Linked DNA regions of Homo sapiens. The protein of the gene in region 3 interacts with the protein of the main gene of each other region in a pairwise test. Each region holds a gene or a part of one and is shown on either strand. Other genes may lie near its edges.

Evidence for each region.
Region 1: the proteins of ARFGAP3 (region 3) and alpha-crystallin A2 chain interact in binary tests that used the Homo sapiens proteins (3 or more experiments, as listed by UniProt).
Region 2: the proteins of ARFGAP3 (region 3) and BACE2 interact in binary tests that used the Homo sapiens proteins (3 or more experiments, as listed by UniProt).

Annotation. Positions count from the first base shown.
Region 1 is NC_000021.9:6,557,689-6,565,225, forward strand, and holds the end of alpha-crystallin A2 chain, read left to right. Parts: intron 1-2,383; 5' UTR 2,384-3,094; coding exon 3,095-3,283; intron 3,284-4,231; exon of another isoform or gene 4,232-4,327; coding exon of another isoform or gene 4,328-4,405; intron 4,406-4,512; coding exon 4,513-4,635; intron 4,636-6,066; coding exon 6,067-6,276; 3' UTR 6,277-6,801; downstream 6,802-7,537. UniProt on the Homo sapiens protein: Contributes to the transparency and refractive index of the lens. In its oxidized form (absence of intramolecular disulfide bond), acts as a chaperone, preventing aggregation of various proteins under a wide range of stress conditions.
Region 2 is NC_000021.9:41,170,646-41,178,395, reverse strand, and holds part of BACE2 (beta-secretase 2 isoform A preproprotein), read right to left. Parts: intron 3,166-7,750; exon of another isoform or gene 1-3,165. UniProt on the Homo sapiens protein: Responsible for the proteolytic processing of the amyloid precursor protein (APP).
Region 3 is NC_000022.11:42,853,681-42,861,819, forward strand, and holds the start of ARFGAP3 (ADP-ribosylation factor GTPase-activating protein 3), read right to left. Parts: upstream 3,594-8,139; 5' UTR 3,503-3,593; coding exon 3,434-3,502; intron 1-3,433.

The DNA of each region.
Region 1 (7,537 bases), on a different chromosome or scaffold from region 3:
GCGTGTGGTGAGGGGCGCAAGAGGTGTGAGTGCCTGGACCTTGCTCTGCCCCATGTCTGAGGACCTTGCCCTGCCCCGTGTCTGAGGACCTTGCCCCATCCTCGGCACCCAGAGCTGTGCAGTCCATAGGACCAGGCTGGTGCCCAGCCCCAGGTTGGTGCCTCAGCTGCCTCCTCAGCCTGCAGTCTCCACTGTTTGACTGACCATGTGCAGGGCCAGCTGTGAAGGACAGCACAGCTCCTCCCTCCCTGCCAAGTGTCAGGGGCACTAAAAACACTGCCATCAATGTTCTGATGTTTAAATCATGTTTTGATGCAATGTTTAAACAAATCAAAATGGGTCGGGCGCAGTGGCTCACGCCTGTAATCCCATCACTCTGGGAGGCCGAAGCGAGTGGATCACCAGAGATCAGGAGTTCGAGACCAGCCTGGCCAACACGGCGAAACCTCATCTCTACTAAAAATATAAAAATTAGCTGGGTGTAGTGGTGTGTGCCTGTAATCTCAGCTACTTGGGAGGCTGAGGCAGGAGAATCGTTTGAACCCGGGAGGCAGAAGTTGCAGTGAGCTGAGATTGTGCCACTGCACTCCAGCCTGGGCGACAGAGCGAGACTCCATCTCAAAAATAAATAAATAAAATAAATAAGTAAATCAAAATGAATGCAAAAAATTTGTGGTGGACAAACTGTCAACATTTTACATAAAGCCAGGATGAGGACGACGGCCTTCTCCTTTTGCTTCAAGCTCCAGCATGGCTCTGCCCAGCACTGACCGTGCTCCTGGCCTGGCTCGACCCTCCCCAGGGCCAAGCTCCATGCTGGTTTCCATCCCAAAGGACTCTTCTTCCCCCTCCCTGTGCCCCGGGAATAGGCAGCCAGCACAGTGGGGCCGCCCGCTGCCTCACCCAGACCCTGCCACTGCTTGGATGTTGACCCCCAGACTGGAAAGGTGGCTTTAAACCCCCTTCCCTTCTTCCAAGCCAAGTGACCTGGGTGTGCGGCTTAACCTTCTAAGCTCCCATTTCCTGGTCTATGAAGCGGGAATGATGCTGGGACCTGCTTCACAGGGTGGCTCTGAGGACCCACAGGCAGAGAGGTCTGGTGTAGGCTTTCGGGGGAAGCACCCATCACTCTCCCAGCGTTTCCTATCTGCACCTTAATTTGGCACCCCAGGGAATCGCTCCTCTGGAATTGTAACCTTGCAGGGCAAAAGCTATCATTTCAAGATTTTTTGGGATCCTGTGTCCCCGGACAGTGCTGTAAATGTAGGAGGAAGGGTGCTGCTCATGGGTGCTGCTCATGATGGAGGTGCCCCGTGGAGCACGCCTCGGAGCCCCCCCTTTCATCCCTGATCCCATCTGGGATGTGTCAGGTCTGATCCGCATACACTGGGGCATCTGACATTTCATGGCCTTCTGAGCCCATGGGCTGGAGATGAATTTGCAAAGCCCGGGAGTGTCCTGGGTGTGTGTTCACTCCACACGCACGAATCTGTTAGAGGCTGAGTAGGAACTAGGAGGCCAAAGAGAACCAGGCAACTTCCCACAGCCTGGACCGTACACTAGAAAAGCTAGCCTGGGAGAGGGGGCATGGCCTCTTCCCAGGCTGGCAGGGGGGATGTGGGGGAGGACCATGCTCCCCAGGGCCAGTTTACCAAAATATCAAAATACCAAAATATCAAAAGACTTAAAACTAGGAGTGAGCCAGGTGCAGTGGCTCACGCCTGTAATCCTACACTTTGAGAGGCCAAGGCAGGTGGGTCACCTGAGGTCAAGAGTTTGAGACCAGCCTGGCCAACACGGTGAAACCCTGTCTCTACTAAAAATACAAAAATAATAATAATAATAATAATAATAATAATTAGCCAGGTGTGGTGGCAGGCACCTGCAGTCTCAGCTACTCAGGAGGCTGAGGTGGGAGAATTGTTTGAACCTGGGAGGCAGAGGTTGCAGTGAGCTGAGATCGCGCCACTATATGATCTGGGCGCCACTCTGGGTGACACAGCAAGACTCCATCTCAAAAACAAACAAACAAAACCGGGAGTGCCTGGACACTTAGTGAGAACTGGACAGGGGCCATGGGTCGAGGAGCAAAATAATCACCAGGACTTGTGGATAACAGGATCATGTGGGTGGTGGGTCCGCATGGGTGACAGGGACGTGGGGACATGTCGCCACCCTGACAGGAGCAGCCCAACTCAACAGCCACGGCAGGTCATGCCACGGAGGCTCGAGGCGTTACGTGGGGATGTTACATCAAGGCATTACATCATTACGAGATGTAACGCTCGAGGCGTTACATCGAGGGGATGATGGCCATGGGGCTGGGCGTCCAGGGTGGGCCGCAGAGGGAAGCTCACCACGTGGTGCTCTCATCTGCCCACAGCCCAGCCCGTCTTCCTGTTGGAGGCATGTGACCCCTGGAGGACAAGCATGAAACGCCATAGGGCTCCCCCAGGTGCTGGAATTATGGCACCTTGCAGCTTCTTCTCCACGAGTTTTAACAAGCATGCGTACTTTTGTAAGTGGTGAGTGTAACGGAGGTTCACAGATGCACTCCGCTTTGGAAACCAGTGCACTCTTGCCCAGGCCCGGTGAGACTCTGACGACGATGTGTCTAACCTCTGTGTCTAACGGGGGTGTGGGCTCTCCCTCCTCTGGCGACCATGAGGACCACCCCGGCAGGACAAGGTGTGCAGAGAACTAGCATGGTCCCTGGCACGTAGCCCCTGCCCAGTGACTGGCAGATGAGAAGCTCCATTGTCGCCCCAGGCGAGTATGGGGCACAGGCGCCTCCTTGGGTTGTCTGCCCTCCCGGGAGCCCCAGGGTGCCCAGGCGGGCCTCAGCTGAGTCCAGGCCTCGGGGACAGTCCGTGCAGCCCCTCCTGGGGCTGGGGGCGGGCACTTGTCCCAGCCACGTTTCTGCTGACTGAGCAGCCTTCTTCATGAGCTCACGCCTTTCCAGAGAAATCCCTTAATGCCTCCATTCTGCTGGTGGCATATATAGGGAGGGCTCGGCCTTGGCTCCACACTGCGCTGCCCAGAGGCCCCGCTGACTCCTGCCAGCCTCCAGGTCCCCGTGGTACCAAAGCTGAACATGGATGTGACCATCCAGCACCCCTGGTTCAAGCGCACCCTGGGGCCCTTCTACCCCAGCCGGCTGTTCGACCAGTTTTTCGGCGAGGGCCTTTTTGAGTATGACCTGCTGCCCTTCCTGTCGTCCACCATCAGCCCCTACTACCGCCAGTCCCTCTTCCGCACCGTGCTGGACTCCGGCATCTCTGAGGTAAGACGTGGCCCGTGGTGCTGGCCTCTCCTCGCTGCTCAGAGGGTGGTGGCCTCGGTGGGTGGAGAGCGATGGACTCTGGTCTTGCTCCGTCAGGCAGGTGGCCTCGTCCCACTTCATCCCCTTGCAGAGGCTGGGCGAGAGCCTGTGTCCCCACTGCAGCCACGTGGTAGAGCTTCCCCTGGCACTGGGGAGAGGGTGGACAAGGGAGCAGCCTGAATCCACCTTTGCTTTCCTCCATCAGCTCATGACCCATGTGTGCTTTGTAAGGCACCAGCCACATACTGGAAACCCCAAGAGCAGCCCATCCAGGCATGCGTGGTGGCGAATGCCAGCTCCCGGGTTCCTCTGGTCTCCTGAGTCCCGGAGACCTGGGAGCAGGTGGGGGTCATAGTCCTGAAAGCCAGAGAGCAGGGCGTTCCTAGCACCTCCTCCAATGAGCTCGGCCTGCCCACGGCTAGCAAAGCTCTTGGCAAGTTTACTTAGGTGCCCTGCCAAGGCTAAAAGGACAGGCAATGGACGCCCCCCCCCCCCACCCAACCACAGGCCTCCTCTCTGAGCCACGGGTGAGCGGTGCAGGTTCTGCTGTTCTGGAGGGCCTGAGTCCCACCCAGCACCTCATAAACAGGGTCCTCCCCAGGGCTGCTGCAGTAGGCATCAATGCCAGGGTGCAAAATGCCTCAGGGAGCCAAGGCTGAGCCAGGGGAGTGAGAAGGAGCATGTGGAAGTGCGTTTTGGAGAGGCAGCTGCGCAGGCTGTCAGCAGGCTCCGGCCGCTTCTATAGACAGCATGACACCAAGGGCAGTGACCTCATTCCACAGGCTGAGTCCAGCCAGCCAGCCAAGCATCACCAGCCAGACGATTGACCCTAACGGACCAACCAACCCGTAACGACCCCTCCTACCATAACCAGTAGCCAGCCAGCCCATAACCAGCCAACTTATCTATAACCAGCCACCTGACCATAGCCAAACAACCAGCCGGCCCACCAGTAGCATTCAGCCCCTCAGCTGGCCCTGAGGGTTTGGAGACAGGTCGAGGGTCATGCCTGTCTGTCCAGGAGACAGTCACAGGCCCCCGAAAGCTCTGCCCCACTTGGTGTGTGGGAGAAGAGGCCGGCAGGTGACCGAAGCATCTCTGTTCTGATAACCGGGACCCGCCCTGTCTCTGCCAACCCCAGCAGGGACGGCACCCTCTGGGCAGCTCCACATGGCACGTTTGGATTTCAGGTTCGATCCGACCGGGACAAGTTCGTCATCTTCCTCGATGTGAAGCACTTCTCCCCGGAGGACCTCACCGTGAAGGTGCAGGACGACTTTGTGGAGATCCACGGAAAGCACAACGAGCGCCAGGTGAGCCCAGGCACTGAGAGGTGGGAGAGGGGGGCGAGTTGGGCGCGAGGACAAGGGGGTCACGGCGGGCACGACCGGGCCTGCACACCTGCACCATGCCTTCAACCCTGGGAGAGGGACGCTCTCCAGGGGACCCCGAATCAGGCCTGGCTTTTCCCCAAGGGAGGGGCCGTGCCCACCTGAGCACAGCCAGCCCCTCCCGGTGACAGAGGTCACCATTCCCGAGCTAATGTGGCTCAGGGATCCAGGTTAGGGTCCCTTCCCGGGCTGCACCCAGCCGTCGCCAGCTCCATCCCTGTCACCTGGATGCCAGGGTGGTCTTAGAAAGAACCCCAGGAAGTGGGAGTGCCCCGGGTGGCCGCCTCCTAGCCAGTGTACATCTTCACATGAACCCTACCTGAGGAAGCCAGTCCCCGACGGCATAGCTGCATCCGCTTGGAATGCTTTACAGGCATTGACACCTTCGCCTCACAGCAGCACTTTGGAACCAGTGTCCTCATTATTCCAGGGCACGGCTGGGGAACAAGGGGGTCCTCAGCCTGCTGGGTCCCACAGCTAGTACCGGGCAGGTGGACGGGAGCTTCTCCCCACAGTCACCCTGATGCCCCGCTCTTGCTCGGCTGGAGGCCTCGGATCTCCGTGGTGTTGAGGGAGCCGGGGCACTGGAGCCCTGGTGACCTGCATCTCCTGGCGGAGCCGGGAAGAGCTCATGGACTGTCACAGATGGACAGTGCCCCGCGGGGGCTGGAGAGCAGAGTGGGGCTGGAAGGTGGAACTCTTAGCCAAAGTCTTGGTTTCTTTTGGCCAGGGTCCTCTTTCAATGGCTGGAGAAGGTGGTGCTGGGGGGTGAACGCTGACCTCCTCATGTGCTGCCCCTCCCTCGCCTGGGCCCGGTAAAGCCCCCACGTAGCCCCAGCCAGCCTGGAACATGCTTCCTGAGCTCCCAGCTCTTGGTCTTTGCACCCAGTGGAGGAGGAGGTCAGCCCAGGGAGCTGAGTCTGCGGTTTAGGGCGTCCAGGGGACGTGGAAGCATGTGGGTCGTCTGGCCACATTAGGTAGGGCTGCAGAGACCTGGGCTAGAGCAGTCCTGCGGGGTCTGGAAGGGGAAGACTGGCTGAGGTGCGGGGCCTGGTCTGGAATGATCCTGCGATTTTGGAGTGAAGCCATGGAGCGGGAAGAGACAACCCCCCGCGGGGAATAGCCCGGCAAGTGGCCACGAGGCCAGGCTGAGGTCCAGAGAAGCAGGGGCATGAATCCATAAATCCCAGGGGGCCTGGCCATGGGATGTGCTGGCTGCACCCGGCCCCTGTGAGAGCCCCCGCAGGCTGGCCCCCTTCTGCAGTCAGTGGGGCTGGGGCAGCTTCTCTGGCATGGGGCGAGGCAGCCGCCTGCACAGTGGCCCCCCTGACTGTGCGCCCCCACCCTCTCCAGGACGACCACGGCTACATTTCCCGTGAGTTCCACCGCCGCTACCGCCTGCCGTCCAACGTGGACCAGTCGGCCCTCTCTTGCTCCCTGTCTGCCGATGGCATGCTGACCTTCTGTGGCCCCAAGATCCAGACTGGCCTGGATGCCACCCACGCCGAGCGAGCCATCCCCGTGTCGCGGGAGGAGAAGCCCACCTCGGCTCCCTCGTCCTAAGCAGGCATTGCCTCGGCTGGCTCCCCTGCAGCCCTGGCCCATCATGGGGGGAGCACCCTGAGGGCGGGGTGTCTGTCTTCCTTTGCTTCCCTTTTTTCCTTTCCACCTTCTCACATGGAATGAGGGTTTGAGAGAGCAGCCAGGAGAGCTTAGGGTCTCAGGGTGTCCCAGACCCCGACACCGGCCAGTGGCGGAAGTGACCGCACCTCACACTCCTTTAGATAGCAGCCTGGCTCCCCTGGGGTGCAGGCGCCTCAACTCTGCTGAGGGTCCAGAAGGAGGGGGTGACCTCCGGCCAGGTGCCTCCTGACACACCTGCAGCCTCCCTCCGCGGCGGGCCCTGCCCACACCTCCTGGGGCGCGTGAGGCCCGTGGGGCCGGGGCTTCTGTGCACCTGGGCTCTCGCGGCCTCTTCTCTCAGACCGTCTTCCTCCAACCCCTCTATGTAGTGCCGCTCTTGGGGACATGGGTCGCCCATGAGAGCGCAGCCCGCGGCAATCAATAAACAGCAGGTGATACAAGCAACCCGCCGTCTGCTGGTGCTGTCTCCATCAGGGGCGCGAGGGGCAGGAGGGCGGCGCCGGGAGGGAGGACAGCGGGGTCTCCTGCTCGCGTTGGACCCGGTGGCCTCGGAACGATGGGGTCGCCTGCGTCCCTTCCTTCTCCTGAGCTCAAGCGCCTCCCTCCACACTGGGCTGGAAGGAGAGGTTTTGGGGGCAGAGCCTCTGATGGGAAAGGGACTGGGGAGCGGTTCCGAGAGCTGGGGGCGGGGAGGGACCTGGAAGGGGCTGCAGGGAATGGAGGGAGGCCGGGCTCCTTTCTCTGTCCGCGCCGGCACCGGGGCGGGACGCCAGCCCTGGCCTCCTTCTGCGGGGCCGTCCGGTTCTCTCGGGGTCTGCTGGGTCGTCCTGTTCTCTCGGGGGTCCTGCTGCCTTCGGGGCTGGGCTTTAAGGGCACTCGTGCTTTTGAGGAGCTGGAACTCGGCAGCTTCCCCTGGGCAACCCATCATGGCCCCGAGCTGGAGGCGGAAGCTCGCTCTGTCCCCTCCCGGGACCAGACACTGGGCGGCCATGCCAGACCCCGCCACGGGGAGGGAGACTCGGCCTGGGGGGCCCTGGCTGCCTGCTGCGCTCACCGAGGGGCATCCGGGGGGCCAGAGGGCACCCAAGGGGAAGCAGACGCCACGGCGGGTGGGCCCTGCCAGCGCCCTCAGCCAAGTAAAGCGCCCTCGACCCCGGAGGCCGAAGGCACCGGGACCCTG
Region 2 (7,750 bases), on a different chromosome or scaffold from region 3:
TTCTCCTCTTTAACCCCCAGTCACTCCAGTTATAAGTGATTTTTAACTCTTCTCACACTTTAATGCATCTGGCAAGAAGATCCACGTGGTGTTAGGAACAATACAGGACCTTAAGGATGGGGGAATCAGCAGGTGTCAGCGTGCCCTGTATGCTCAGGGCAGCTGTTTCCACTGGACATTCTCCCTTTGCCTCTCTGGGCAGCAACTCCTAGGCCAGCCGACCTGCTGTGTCGAGTAACCAGGATTTCTCAATCTTGGCATGGTTGCCATTTTGGACCAGATCGTTCTTTGTTGTGGGGGCTGCCCTGTACGGCAAAGAATGCCGAGCAGCACTTCCAGTCTCCACCCACAGGACGCCAGTAGCACCCTCTAAGTTGTGAGAACTCAAAATGTCCCCAGAGGATGCCAGATGTCCCCTGGGGTGGGGACACAATCACCCCAGGTTGAGATCCATGGAGCCAGGTCTGTTTGCCACCAAGGGGTAAAGCTCCATTCCCACCTTAGGAGGGCTAGGAGGCAGCATCGTGGGGCCACAGAAGGCCTGGGTTTGCAGTCAGAGGACAGGATGCACATTCCTTCAAGATACAGACCCAGATTGTTGGGCATCTAGTTCTTGGGTTTTCTGTTGTTGCTGTTCCGTTTTGTCTGTCTTCCCTCCTTTGTTTACTAGCAGCCTGGAATTTGCCACTTTTTCTAAACGAAGATTTATGGAACACTTACCACACGGCTGACGCTGCGCGAGGCTAAGGTTCTAATACACCGCAGCTCACTTAACTCTCGCAATACCATAAACGCACACTGTTTCATCTTGACCCTTTCTTGGGAAGGTGACAGAGAGGTAGGAGGGCAAACATCTTGTGTGCCCCGTCCCAAGGGTATTACTGGTGGAATAATATCCGCCCCCCACCCCAGTTTCTAATTTGCTGTAGGCTGTGACGCTGTGGGGCAAGACTAGGAGTCCTGTTGAAATTAGGAATAAGTGTGCTGTGAGGGAAGGGCTGCCTTATTTTAGAGCACAGATTTTCTGAATATCTATTTTGACAGGTTCGATCCTCTCCCCTTCCTGCCTTCCTTCTGTCGATTTTCAATGTCTTGATGGTGTCCCACCTGAGTGGCCTTTAGAGATGTGAGTTGTGAGGCACTGGGGAGGCAGGCACACGTCCTCCAGCCCAAGACTGCCTAATTTAACAGGGATTTCTGCATTCTGGAACAAGCCTCCATTTTCCCCAAGCAGGATTACTCCAGAGGGCAAAACACAGCCCAATAGTATCACATTTCCTTTCTGCTTTAGCAAAAATAACCACTGTCTCATTCATGGGAAAAGGCCGCCAAACAAATTTGTTACTGGAACCATTTGTAACAACTTCTAGTTTGCACTGCCTTGGAGCAAGCACACTTTGTAGAGGAGGGATTTGCAGTTACTTGGGCAACAAGGTAACCACTGATCATTACAGGAAGCTTCAGAAACCGTGGGACCAGTGTAGAAGAATGGACTATCTGTCCAAACTAAGAATAAAAAGAATGACACTTGTATTTTGTATGTCTTTTTCACTTTGCCTTTCTAGTAATTCATTTTTCTTGATATTTACACCTTGTGGCCCTGTGATAGACTGGAAATCTCAAAAACACACGTTCAGCACCAAGATTTTCAGCAGCACCGCCTCAGAATGAGACCCCTAGAAAAAACTGCGTGTTTTCCACTTGCCCAACACGAGGAGTTTTTGGAACACGACCTGCTTGAGGTGGAGATTTTCTAGATGGGCAAAGAGAAGGAAACACTTAACCTAGGAAGAGTATTTAGGAAGAAGAAAGAACACAGCCTTTCTGCACAGGAAACCGCCGAGCAGAGGGGCATCTGGCCTCTGCAGTGGCCTCCAAATAGAGTCCAATGGCTGGGGCCAGCGTGGCTGCTTAAAGGGGACTCAAGGGATATAATAAAATGCAGATTCTCAGGTCCTAGTGCAGACAGGCTCACCCAATAAGTCTGGACTGCATATGGGAATCTCTATTTCTAGGCCCTTCTGCAAGGTATTCCTGCTCTTTCCAGGAACCATCGGCAGCTGGTTTGGGGAAAGAAGCAACGACTCCAAGTGTGACCTGTGAGCTGGCAGCAGCCACCCTCAGCTCTGCTCTCGGTCACTGAATCCGATTCTGCATTTTAACAGGACCCCAGGTGTTGCACCCACACAAAGCTGAAGCAGATTGGTCTGGGGGCAAAAAATTAGAGCTATGGAGATTCTCTCAAATGAAATAGATGATATCATTGACTGTTAGAGCTTCTAGAAGGAATCTGAGGTCACTTGTTCAAATTCCCTGATTTACAGATGAGGAAACAGAGGCTCAGACAGCTCAAATGACTTCTCTCCAATACCCAACATTCGACAAGTAGCAGCTCTGGGACTAGTACCCAAAGCACCTAGCTCTCCAATCACTGCGCAAGCCACACAATTCTGTCTGCTTGTCAGTGGCTTTTCTGATTCAAAAAAAGCTTAGGAATTTCCCCAGGAGGCAGCACGATGTAGTGGGAAGGGCTCTGGATGTCTCTCCAAGGCTTCTGGAATTCATGCCCACCTCCACCAAGAAGCCACTTTCCTGCCAGCTACAGGTGCTCACCTGAAAAGCAAGCCAGACCATATTAACCCTGGCATTGCTGGTACCTGGAAGACTTTCTGATTCAATGCTTTCCACCTCCTCCTACCCCTCACCACCCCCGTGGCATGAAATCCTGGGGGCTGCTTTAGAAATTGTTTTCTTTGGCTGCTGGTGGGGGTGCTGCTGGTGGGGGTTTGCACAGCTGGCACACTGCACCAGTCTGGTGGGGGTTTGCACAGCTGGCACACTGCACCAGTCTCCTGCCTGCTGCCAACAAGGCCATTTCCCAAGCACTGGCTTTGGAGAAGTTGGGGCTCTGAAGTGGGAACACAAGGCTGCCTTTTGCAGGCCAGGTGTAAATTCTCCCCCTGCCACTTTCAGCCTAGCGTGAAACAGATGGAGTGTGCATTCCCACTTCCCTTTATGGTACCCTGGAATGATGGAGCTGCCCAGGGCATCGCCACGTTACTCTCTAGACAGTCTCTTTGTCTTCCTGCAATGGCAGCGCCGAGGTTGTATATTTCTAGGTGCAGGTATATGATTGCCATATAATAAAAATCTGAAAACATCCCACCCGGGGCCTGGGCTGGACAGCAAGCATTAGCACAAAACAAACACACTCATTTCATTTCCTTTATGTGGTTAATGTCAGCACTCCCAGAGTATTCTCTCTTCTTTTGAGAATTCTAAGAGCAAAAAAGTGACCACTTTTTTTTGTATTGAGTAGCAATAGTCAAATATCAAATTAGTACATCTAGGCCAAGAGAGGATGAAGGGGAGCCAGGCCAGGAAAGTCACCCAGAAGAGGTGACACTCTCTTCCTCAGGTTCCACCAGAAACATGTTTATACCCAGGGAAATTACAGAAGGGGTGCCAGGCTGCCCACCTGCCTCACAGGTATGCCCTATTGTCCGGGTAGTATCTGTTACCTTAACATACAATGAACCCCAGTGTCTCACCAAGGCTGGGCAAACAGGGTGACCCAGAGGAGGGATCCATGACACACAGCAAGGGACTCAAGGACAGGCAGAGGCTCACAGTCAGTCATAGGAGCCTCAGGTCACCTGGAGAGGGACCTCACTCACCAGCAAGGAGGACCACCACCCCGTTCCTGCTGTACCCAGTGTGGGGTTGGGGCAAGAGTCAGTGCCCACTAACCCCCCACCTCTTCTCCAGCACAGGTAGACCCTGAATTCAGGGGCCAATGCTTGACCTGCTCTAGTCTATGAATGAGATGTTACATAAATCCCAAGGCATGCTGTCAGATACTAGGGAGAAGGAGAGAAACACCACCTTTAAATTCCTCCCTCTCCACCCCTGGGAGCAATGCAGCTACGTACCACCACCACAAAAGAATAGCCACTTGGCCGCGCGGTGGCTCACGCCTGTAATCCTAGCACTTTGGGAGGCCGAGGTGGGCAGATCACTAGGTCAAGAGATCAAGACCATCCTGGACAACATGGTGAAACCCCGTCTCTACTAAAAGCACAAAAATTAGCTGGTTGTCGTGGCACACACCTGTAGTCGCAGCTACTCAGGAGGCTGAGGCAGAAGAATCGCTTGAACCTGGGAGGTGGAGGTTGCAGTGAGCCAAGATCAGGCCACTGTACTCCAGCCTGGCAACAGAGCGAGACTGTTTAAAAAAAAAAAAAAAAAAAAAAAAAGGCCACTGATCACAACAGCTATCCTTATCATTTTGGGATCATTCCAGGAGGAAAAAGGAAAAATGGGCAGGCAAGGGGAGGTGAAGCCAACTTACCTACAACAAGGAGATCACACAAGGAGATCAGGGATGAGTATGGCGGGAAGTATGGGGGGAAGCACCTGTTTCATATTAAATATATCCTGATTGATAAGGGGGTTGCCTTATAATGTCTTTAAAACATGAAATACTGAAGCTTTCTACATCCATCCCAACATAAGTGTTTATTACTCATAGGTATTTAAATATCATTGATCTAATCTTGTACACATTGGATTTCTCTCATATTATACATTAATTTCAGCAATTCTAGAATTAGTGCAACATGACATGGGACATTTTAAATTCTTTTTTTCGAGACAGAGTCTCGTTCTGTTGCCCAGGCTGGAGTGCAGTGACACGATCTCGGCTCACTGCAACCTTTGCCTCCCAGGTTCAAGCAATTCTCCTGCCTCAGCCTCCTGAGTAGCTGGGACTACAGACATAAGCCACCATGCCTGGCTAATTTTCATATTTTTAGTAGAGATGGGGTTTCACCATGTTGACCAGGCTGGGTCAGGTCAAACTCCTGACCTCAGGTGACCCGCCCGCCTCAGCCTCCCAAAGTGCTGGGATTACAGGCATGAGCCACCGCGCCCCGCCTGACATTTTAAATTTTCAAGCAGTTACTCTCCAGCAGGAAAAACAATACAGAAGTACAGAAGGGAAGCAGAAACACTCCTCTCTTCCTTCTCCCACCCTAAGCCCCAGGGCACTCTCTTGCCGCAGGCTTCATATCAATACAGCACTAAAATCGTCATTTGTGTATTGCCTGTGATAACAATTACACTTGAATCCCAAATTGAAATTATTAACAATTAAAAGGTGAGGTAGAATCAAAGAAAAAAAATCCATAGAATGAAAAACTTAGAATGAACTTGTTGTGGATTAAATCATGTTCCCCAAAAGATATGCTGAAGACGTAACTCCGGTACCTGTGAACTTAACCTTATTCAGAAAGTGGGTCTATGCAGATGTGATGAAGTAAAGATGAGGTCAGGTTAGAGGAGGGCAGGCCCTAATCTAATGACTGGTCTCCTTATAAGAAGAGAGGAATTTGGCCACAGAAACTTACATGGAGGGGAGAGATTGGAGTCATGCGGCCAAGGGTCAAGAAATGCCAGCAGCCATCAGACACTAAGAAGAGGGAAGGAAGGATCCTCCCCCAGAGCCTCCGGAGGGACAGTGTTTCTGCTGTCGCCTTGCTTTTTGAACTCTGGCCTGCAGAATTATGAGAACAAGTTTCTATTGTTTTGAGACCAGGACATTAATGCAGAAATTTGATTCTCCACAGCTGAGGAAAGGGAAGATGAGGGAGGTTACACACTTGCTCCTGGTCACAGGTGTGACACTACAGTGCTCAGGACCTGTAATCACATCAGGATGCTTCCTGTCAAACCACATCATCTCCAGAAGCATGAAGATGGTTCTTCTTAAAAAGTTACTGTAACTAAAACACTGCACCTAAGGAGGAACGGCAGTGACGTGCAAAGACTGAGCTGGGCTGACCCAGATTGACAGCTCCACCCTGCTTTGCCTTCACTAGTGTGGCCCTGGACAAACTACTCTGCCTCTCCAAGCCTCGGTTACCCTGTCTGAAAATTAAGTCACATTGTTGTGCACATTTTCCAGGACGTTGCAAGGATACAATGAGGTGAGCCACGCACAGGGCTTCACGTGCCCTTTGAGTGTCCAACACTCCATCAGCAAGAAATCAAGGTCAGCTCTTGATCTTATAAACTATTTCTCAGACTCCTGTCCCTCCTTGTTGTTTCAAGCTGATTTCTTGGCTCACCTTTCCCAGTCCTCTGTAATACAGTCTTTGATGAATTCTTTCTCTAAAGCCCAGAAGCTGCCACTTCTCACTCGAAGGAGCTGGTGGCAAACTGGCTTTGACTTTCTTGTTCTTTCAACCTCAGTAATTGTTTTTTCTCATTGTCTTTAATAGTTTACCATTTCAAGTGGCTCCATCAGATTTCTTCTTGCTGGGATTGCCTTCTTGTTTTCAGCCTCACCTACAGTCAGCTTCATTTGGGGAGCCTGGATGGCTTCTTCTGAAGAACACAAACTCTTATTGCATATGCTGGATCCATATTTTCAATACAAGTCTTCCAAATAATTGTGTACTAAGAGGCTGATAATCAAGTGAATGCACCATGATTAAAATAGGATTCGCCAAAATAATTAGGTGGCCCTTTACATTCAAGTGTTCAGGTATGAGAATAGTTTTGCTGTCTGCTTTACCTATGTTAGTGGAGATGACAGAAAATCTTTCAGAAAAAGAATCCCAAAGGCTTTTTTTGAAGCTACTACAAGGTATATGGCTGCACACCTTCTCCTGTCTTCAGCTGGAGTTATTGTGTTAACATGAAAGTCTCTTTTTTCATAATAGAAATTGCTGTAATTATAATTACTTTAGAAGAGTGTTATTATTAATAAGACCAAATTGCACGGTTCAAGCAGGTGCTGGTTGAAAGAACTGTTCAAAAGTTCTACAGTTCGAAAGAACCCACATAATGGGATCAGCCGCAAACCTGGCAGTCATCTCCATGCCAACGTGGCCCTGCCTGCCAGCACACACGCCTTGCAGCTCTCAGGCGGGCTTCCGGGCACATGCCTGTGACTCCTCACAGAGTCACTGGGCTTTAAACAATGGACCTCTAGTTCCTGATTAAAGCCTTCGGGGAACAAGCACACTTCCAACAGTTGACTTTCCCATAAAAGAAGGGGAGCTGGAGGGCTCTGGTTCCTGTTGAACCTCTCCTCTCAAGGCCTCTCCCGTGCACACCTGGATCCAGCCCTTCATTCTGTTGCTCATTCAGCAGTGCTGAAGGAAAGAGGAGATGGGGGAACAGCACGGAGTTCCGGAGGGTCCAGTTGCAGTCATACAATAAGTCCCTAACACCTTGGGGTGTACGTTCAGGGTTCTCTGGCTAGAAAGGGTAGTTTGAGGCCAAAACCAAAGAGATCAGGAGGCATGAAGGGAAGGAAGTCGTTATCTGTCTGGTGGTTCAGAACTTGGCTTCTGAAGTTCAGCTCCCTGGCTTCCATTTTTGGCCCTCCCTCTTTCTTGCCCTGTTGCCCTGGAAAGTCATTCAGTCTCTCCGAGCTTCAGTTTTCCCACCCCCAAATGCGTATAAGACCCCCGAGGGGTGGTGGGTGGTGGGTGGGGATTCCTGGGAAAGCACACCTAAAGCACAGAGCGCAGTGCTTGTCACGTACTGAGCTTTCAGACATTGTCTATGACTATTACTTAATTCTTGAAAAATTCTTGGTTATTTATTGCTTGAATTTACAATTCCATTTTTCTCTCCACCTAAGCAATTTTTATTTTAGGCTTCAGAGAATCAGCAGAGAATAAATGCATGACTCCTGGCCATTAATAGAGCAGGAAAGCTCACTCCAGGTTCAGAAGTC
Region 3 (8,139 bases):
CCAACTGGTAATACAAAGCCCTGGAAAAAGTCTTTTGTATGCGGTAATACACAAGGGCCAAGCCCCCAGTACCGAACACATTGCCGAAAAGGACCATTTTTTCCTTGAGGCACTGGCATCCTGCTGCCTGGATACTTTTGCCACCTCACAGCACAACTCTCTTGAAAATCATCAAAGGCAAGTTGTTCTGTAAGCGACAGAAGCACCATGCTGCAGAGAGCATGAGGAGCCCTTCCGGGCGTGGGATGGTGGCGGTAAATCTTGATCTCCATTTTAAAGAAAACTAAGGAATTACTGAATTAAGTATGACAGATAAGAAGTGGCCACTGCTTAGTAATTCCTTAGTGGAAATGCCCACAATGGGGACTGGATCCCATGCAGTCTGTTCCCAGAGCCACTCTTCCCGCTCCACCACACTGTGCTTCAGAGCAGAAAACATACCACCTGCCGTCCTGCATCTGCCCTTCATCTGTCCACTAGACTATAAGTTCCCTGAGGACAGGAACATACCATCAGTGTACATACCTTTCATGCTCTACACAGTGCCCAGCATAGCATAGGTGCTTAATGAATACTTGTTGAATGAATAACCCAATCTATATAAAAGTAAGGAATGGTATAGCAACAAAGAAGGATTTCCACAAACAAGAAAATTCACCCTTGGCCAGGTGCGGTGGCTCACGCCTGTAATCACAGCACTTTGGGAGGCTGAGACAGGCGGATCACTTTAGGTCAGGAGTTTGAGACCAGCCTGGCCAATATGGTGAAACTCCATTACTACTAAAAATACAAAAATTAGCCATGCGTGATGGCACACGCCTGTAGTCCCAGCTACTCAGGAGGCTGATGCAAGAGAATCGCTTGAACCTGGGAGGAGGAGGTCGCAGTGTGCCAAGATCGCACCACTGCACTCCAGACTGGACAACAGAGCTAGACTGTCTCAAAAGAAAAAAAAAAAGAAAGAAAAAGAAAAAAGAGAATTGACCCTCATGACCTTTGATCTAGAGTAAATCATCATACATGAGACGAAGAAATTGGATACCATGTTCTAAAAGTAAGCCGACTTGTTTTTCTTTGATTACCTTTCCTGGCTCATGTATCTTAGAGCTGTCTTTTATGACCCCAATTTTAAAATGCTATTGTTATCTTCGTTTAGGTAAGGGTTTCAAACCAATGATCAAATAAAAGGTCTCAACCAAGAAATATAGCACATTACTGTTAAACATTACCAGAAAACATTTTTGCTCATTGCTTTTATTAATCTTATTACAGAATATAAATTTTTCACAGGTGTGTTCTTCATCATAAAAACAGCTGCCATTTATTGAAGACTATTATATGCAGTTCCTACTCTAAGTGTTTTTCTTGGATTATTCCATTTAATCTTCACAATAACCCTCTGAGTCAGGTCTAGTTCATGCCCCATTTTCAGAGGAGGAAAAAAGGGACAAAGTGGTCAAGTAACCTGTCCAAGGGTGACATACCTAGAAAGTAGCAGTTTGGACAATACAAGCCTGTCTCTCAAAAGCCTCTTGATATAAAGACATTGATTTCTAATTTAAAATTATCTTTGAATTAAATCAAAGAGAATACATGTTGATGTTTCTGAGATAAAGGTGACAAAAAAATATAGTTTACACATTGCTAACCGCAGATCCTAATCTTGACTAAGTTACACAGGACCCACTCTTTATAAACACATCAATCTAAATTTAAAAATCAAGGCTGGGCGCGGTGGCTCACGCCTGTAATCCCAGCACTTCAGGAGGCCGAGGCGGGTGGATCACTTGAGGCCAGGAGTTTGAGACCAGAGTGACTGACATGGTGAAACCTCGTCTCTACTAAAAATATAAAAATTACTTGAGTGTAGTGGTGGATGCCTGTAATCCTGGCGACTCAGGAGGCTGAGGCAGAATTGCTCAAACCCAGGAGGCAGAGGTTGCAGTGAGCTGAGATCGCACCACTGCACTCCAGCCTGGGCGACAGAGCAAGGCTCTGTCTCAAAAAAATTAAAATTAAAACGTTAAAAAAAAAAAAAAGAACATTAAGGCCAGCATGGTGGCTCATGCCTGTAATCCTAGCACTCTGGGAGGCCAAGGCAGGAGGAGGCAGGAGGACTGCTTGAGCCCAGGAATTTGACACCAGCACGGGCAACATAGCAAGACCCTGTCTCTACAAAAATTAATTAATTAATTAATTAATAATAACAATTAGCTGGGCGTGGTGGTACAGCCCTGTGGTGTCAGCCTCATCAGGAGGCTGGGAAGGAAGGATGGCTTGGGCTGGGTAGGTCAAGGCTGCAGTGAGCTAGGATCAAGGCACTACACTTCAGCCTGGGTGACGGGGTGAGACCCTGTCTCTAAAAAAATAAATAAATAAAAATGTGAAAATCAAGAGAACAGTAAAGAAACGGGCACTGGAGAATTCCTGGAGCCTTTCTCTTAACTTTCCCACATCCATCAGACATCACCTCCAATAAACTGTTTCCTTCCTCACCTAGGCTGGAAAAAATATGGGCTCCCCTGTACCATCAAGACTTAAAACCAACAGAAACACCTATTTTGTAACACTCGGGAACTTTCTATGCCAGCATATCGAGGTTCAATAACAGCTGTTCCCTTCGGGAAGTGACAGTGGGAACCAGACAACACTCGTGTCACAGGAGGGGCGGGGAGAGCCCACGCTGACGCGACAGCCCTTTGCACTCTCCAAGTCCCTCTCCGACCCGACGTGTCACCTTAGCCCCCTGCGTCACCCCAACGCCTCCAGCCAGCTGCGCAAAGCTGTAAAAGTTCCAGGGAGAGAACAGCCTCTGGAGACAAAAAAAAAAAGGAAACCTCCATCTCCAAAGAGAACCGAGGAGAGGGAGGAGGCTGTGGTGAGCCTCCCTGGCCAAAGCGACAAAAGCTGGAAGCCAAAGCGTAGACTACTCGGCAACTTTATCAGAAGAGAAACTGAGGCAGGCACCGCAAGGCCCGAGGAGCCAAGCCGGCTCCAACAGGCGGGGTCGAGCTCCAGGGTGGCGCTGGGGGAGCCGCGCTTTCCCCGCATCCGGCGCCAGCAGCCGGGGTTTCCGAGCCGGGAGCTCCCTCCTCGCAGCGCCCCCGAGGATGCCCCCGCCCCCGCCTCCGCTCAGAGCCGCCGGTGCTCGCCCCCCGCCCCAAGAGCTCGCCGGGGGGTGTGCCCGCGCCGCCGCCCCCGGGAACGCTCCCCGGCTCGCGTGAGGACCCCCGCGCTGCGGCCTCCCGCCCGGGCCTCTCAGCTGCCCGGCCCCGCCCGCCCCGGCCCGGCCAGGCTGCCGCGGCCCCACAGTGCGACGTGTCACAGGCCGCGCCGGCCCCGCCTCCCAAGCCACGGGCACTGGCGCCCGCGGGGCCTCCCGCCGGTTCCCGCAGGGATGCCAGGCAGGCCCGCACTCGCCCGCGGCCGCTACCTTGTTAGTGGGCACCGAGCGGAGGCGCTTGAAGATGGTCAAGATGTCCTGCTTGCTGGGGTCCCCCATCGTCAGCTGTGAGCCGCGGCGCAGCTGGCCCAGCCAACCGGTAAGAGTCGACGAAAAGCGGCTACCGCCTCAGCAGGAGCGACGAGGCCGCGGGGGCGGGGCTGCGCGTAACGGTCAGGCTCCGCCCCAATCCCCGCCCACGACCGGGCCCGTCCACCGCCGGGGCGCAGGCGCCGCTCGCTTTCCCTCCCCGCCCTCGCTTCAGCCGCGCCGCTGGCCCGACCCCAGGCGCTGCACGCGCGTGCGCAGGAGGCTCGCGCGCCATTTGCGGCGCGGCTCCACGCCCTTAGCGCTGGGCGAAGCCGGGCCCGGGTGTGGCTGCCTGCCACGCGCGCTGCCATAGGATCCACCAACGTTTCGCCTGGTCGATCGCCATTTCGCCTAACGGGCTGCTTCCATGGAAAGGTCAGAGGCAGGGGAAGGGGCGCACGCGCCCTCCTTCGGCACGAGACGGACGGAGGGCCCGTGCCTTGACGCCGGACCTTAGCTGGTGGCCTTCCCTTTTTTTTTTTTTTTTTTTGAGACGGAGCCTCGCTCTGTCCCCCAGGCTGGAGTGTAATGGCGCGATTGCGGCTCCTTGCAACCTCCCTGGTTCAAGCGATTCTCCTGCCTCAGCCTCCCGAGTAGGTGGGATTACAGGCGTACATCACCACGCCCGGCTAATTTTTGTATTTTTAGTAGAGACCAGGGTTTCACCATGTTGCCCAGGCTGGTCTCGAACTCCTGACTTCAGGTGATCCACCCACTTCGGCCTTCCAAATTGCTGGGATTACAGACGTGAGCCGCCGCGCCCGACTCTTTTTAATTCTTGCCCTCAGCTCACGCCAGGCCCTGGGTGGAAAGCTTTCTTTGCCCGGAAACTGGCTTTCTGAAACCAAGGGCTTTTGTGTCACGTTCATGGAGAGATGGCAGTGCGGGTTGAGGCAGAAGTGCTCAGTCAGAACTGATGAGTCCAGATGAGAAGCTTGACTTTTAACCCCGGCCCTCGGGGCTGCACCCTACCCTCTGGGAAACAATTCCAGCCAGAAGAGTTTACACTCAGCAGAAGGTGCCTCTGTCACCACAATGGGTGTGGAGCCACTGGAAAGAGGTTGGGTGATAGTGAGGAAGGACAGCAGGTTTTGGCATCAAAGGCACTACCTTGGCCTCAATCCCAGTTCAGCCAGCTGCTTCCTAGCTCTGTGGCCTTGGTCAAGACACTTACCTTCTCTAAAGCATGGTTTATTTGCAGTCTCAGGGGCTCATGCCTGTGATCCCAGCACTTTGGGAGGCTGAGGCGGGAGGATCACTTGAGCTCAGGAGTTCAAGACCAGACTGGATAATATGGTGAAACCCCGTCTCTATAAAAAAATGCAAAAATTAGCCGGGCATGCTGGCATGGGCCTGTAGTCCTAGCTACTTGGGAGGCTGAGGTGGGAGGATCGCTTTAGTCCAGGAGGTCGAGGCTGCAGTGAGCCAAGATCGCACCACTGCACTCCAGCATGGGCGACAGACCAAGACCCTGTCTCAAAAAGTAAAATAAAATAAACCATGGTTTATTCATCTGTACAAAGAAATTAAAGAATCAGTGCTGAGTAGCACAGGTGAGCAGCTTCCTAGGGATATCCTGAAGAGCCTTTGGTGGAGGCTTTCTACTGTTAGAAGTCAGGAAATGTACACTCCACCTATCTGCTTGGAGACCCTCGGTGGCAGTTGGGAGCTTGCAGACAATGTAACTTATAAACCCAAAGCTGCAACTTTTCCAAGAAAGGGAAATTGATTATCTTCCAGAAAAGTACATTACTTTTGCAGGTAGCTCTGATGGTTTAAAAGTTCTTCCTGTATTGAGTCGAAGTATAACACCTGTGCTTTGTGTCCACCGGGTACTAGTTTGGCCTTATGCAGAATACCGGGCATGTTTATGAGCAGTTTTATCCTTCCTGATGGGAATGGGAATGATGGTCCCATTTACTACTTGGAGCTGAAATCTTACTAAGTTATATTATCAGAGTAGTGCAGTCTAGCCCATTCTCCACCATAGAGATTGAGGAGAGGGAAACAAAAGCAGTAAATTATAGACAGTATCTACACGAATAGGGGAGGAAGGGGTAGGAGGTACCATTTATACACTATGGTTGCTTAAGTGTTCTTCATAGAACTTAGCATCTAATACTATAACATATAATATTCTATCTATATGTTATCTGGCTCTAATTGAATACAAAAATATATATTTCTGGCCGGGGGCGGTGCCTCACACCTGTAATCCCAGCACTTTGGGAAGCTGAGGTGGGTGGATCATGAGGTCAGGAGTTCGAGACCAGCCTGACCAACATGGTGAAACCCCATCTCTACTAAAAATACAAAAATTAGCCAGGCATGGTGGTGGGCACCTGTAATCCCAACTACTCAGAGGCTGAGGCAGGAGAATCGCTTGAATCTGGGAAGCAGAGGTTGCAGTGAGCCGAGATCACACCACTGCACTCCAGCCTAGGCGACAGAGCGGGACTCTGTCTCAAAAAAAAAAAAAAAAAATATATATATATATATATATATATATATATATATATATTTCTTGAAATCAAATGTTTTTTCTCCTTTTTCTTTTGAGGAGTCTCGCCGGAGTGCAGTGGTGTGATCCTGACGCACTGCAACCTCTGCCTCCCAGGTTCAGCCGAGTCTCCTGCCTCAGCCTCCTGAGTAGCTGGGATTATAGGCGCCCGCAACCATGCCTGGCTAATTTTTTTTTTTTTTTTTTTTTTTGAGATGGAGTTTCACTCTTGTCATCCAGGTGGAGTGCCATGGCGTGATCTCGGCTCACTGCAACCTCTGCCTCCCAAGGTTCAAGCGACTCTCCTGCCTCATCCTCCCGAGTAGCTGGGATTACAGGCGCATGCCACCACACGTGGCTAATTTTTATATTTTTAGTAGAGACGGAGTTTCACCATGTTGTCCAGGCTGGTCTCGAACTCCTGACCTCAGGTGGTCTGCCCACCTCAGCCTCCCAAAGAGCTGGGATTACAGGCGTGAGCCACAGCACCCGGCCAATACACTATGGTTGTCTTATCTGTCAGTTGCTTAAGTGTTTTTCATAGAACTTATTGGCATCTAATATTATGATATATAATATTCTATCTATCTGTATCTGCCTCTCCTCAATTGAATATAAATCTCTTGAAATCAGATCTATTTTTCTACTTTTTTTTTTTTTTTTTTGGAGACAGAGTCTCGCTTTGTCACCCAGGCTGGAGTGCAGTGGCGCAACCTCAGCTCACTGCAACCTCTGCCTCGTGGATTCAAGCAATTATCCTGCCTCAGCCTCCCGAGTAGCTGTTTGTAGGCAGCTGCCGCCACGCCTGGCTAATTTTTGTATTTTTAGTAGAGATGGGGTTTTACCATGCTGGCCAGGCTGGTGTCAAACTCCTTCAAGTGATCCGCCCGCCTTGGCCTCCCAGTGTGCTGGGATTACAGGTGTGAGCCACTGTGCTCAGCCTGTTTTTTCTACTACTTTATCCCCAGCACCTAGAATAATGCCTGGCACATAGTATGCATTCAATAAAGATTTGTGGAATGGGCTTAGAATGTAGAAAGCTACAAAGGCTCTCCCTCCCAATATCATAATGAGAAAAGCTGGATAATCTACCAAATTGTAACTTCTGTTGAGCCCATCAGAAAGCTGAGGTTGCAAGGCAACCAAGTAACCTCAGCGCCAAAGAGAGACAACAGAAGCCTCTCCAAAGACAGAACACAAGAACCCCTTCACCTTTGGCAGAGCGCAGGAGAAAGAGGTTACTGCCAAACTAGTTGGCAACAGGAAATCGGCTATAATTTTAATGAAGTCTTAAAGGCCAAGTGTAGGTTGGCATGTGAGTTTGGACTAGCTGGGGGCCTCAGATACAAAGGGAGTTCACATTCATTCATAAGCCCTTTTTAATAAACCTCCATCAGAAACCGTACTTCACAAGGAAGATGGGGACTGGCAAAGAGCCCGGAGAGAGACCTCTCTGTGGGGTGGGCATCCAGCTGCTCAGGAACAGGCACAGACCCCACCTGCTTCCTCTGGACTCTTCTCTTCTAAAAAAGCAGGCTGGGCACAGTGGCTCATGGCTGTAATCCCAGCACTTTGGGAGGCCAAGGCGGGCAGATCATCTGAGGTCAGGAATTTGAGACCAGCCTGGCCAACATGGTGAAACTCTGTCTCTACTAAAAATACAAAATTAGCTCGGCGTGGTGGCGCACACCCGTAGTCCCAGCTACTTGGGGACTGAGGCACGAGAATTGCTTGAACCTGGGAGGGGAAGGCTGCAGTGAGCCAGGATCAAGCCAGTGCACTCCAGCCTGAGCGACAGAGGGAGACTCGTCACAAAAAAAAAAAAAAAAAAAAGAAAGAAAAGAGAAAGAAAAAAAGCAAAAGCAGTAAATTCTCTCTGTCTCAGGGAATGGGCAAAGATCTGTTGCTGCCAGGGGAGGGGTAGAAATAAAACCCAGTAATCCAAATTCAAATGCAAAAAAGGAGGGGAAAGAGAAGCAGAATCCCTCTACAATCCAGGGGTTTGCCATGAGGATGGTGGGAATGTTGAGAAGGCCCCACCCTTTGAGCATCCTGGGCTACACATTTTTTTTTTTTCTCGAGGCGGAGTCTGGCTCTGTCACCCAGT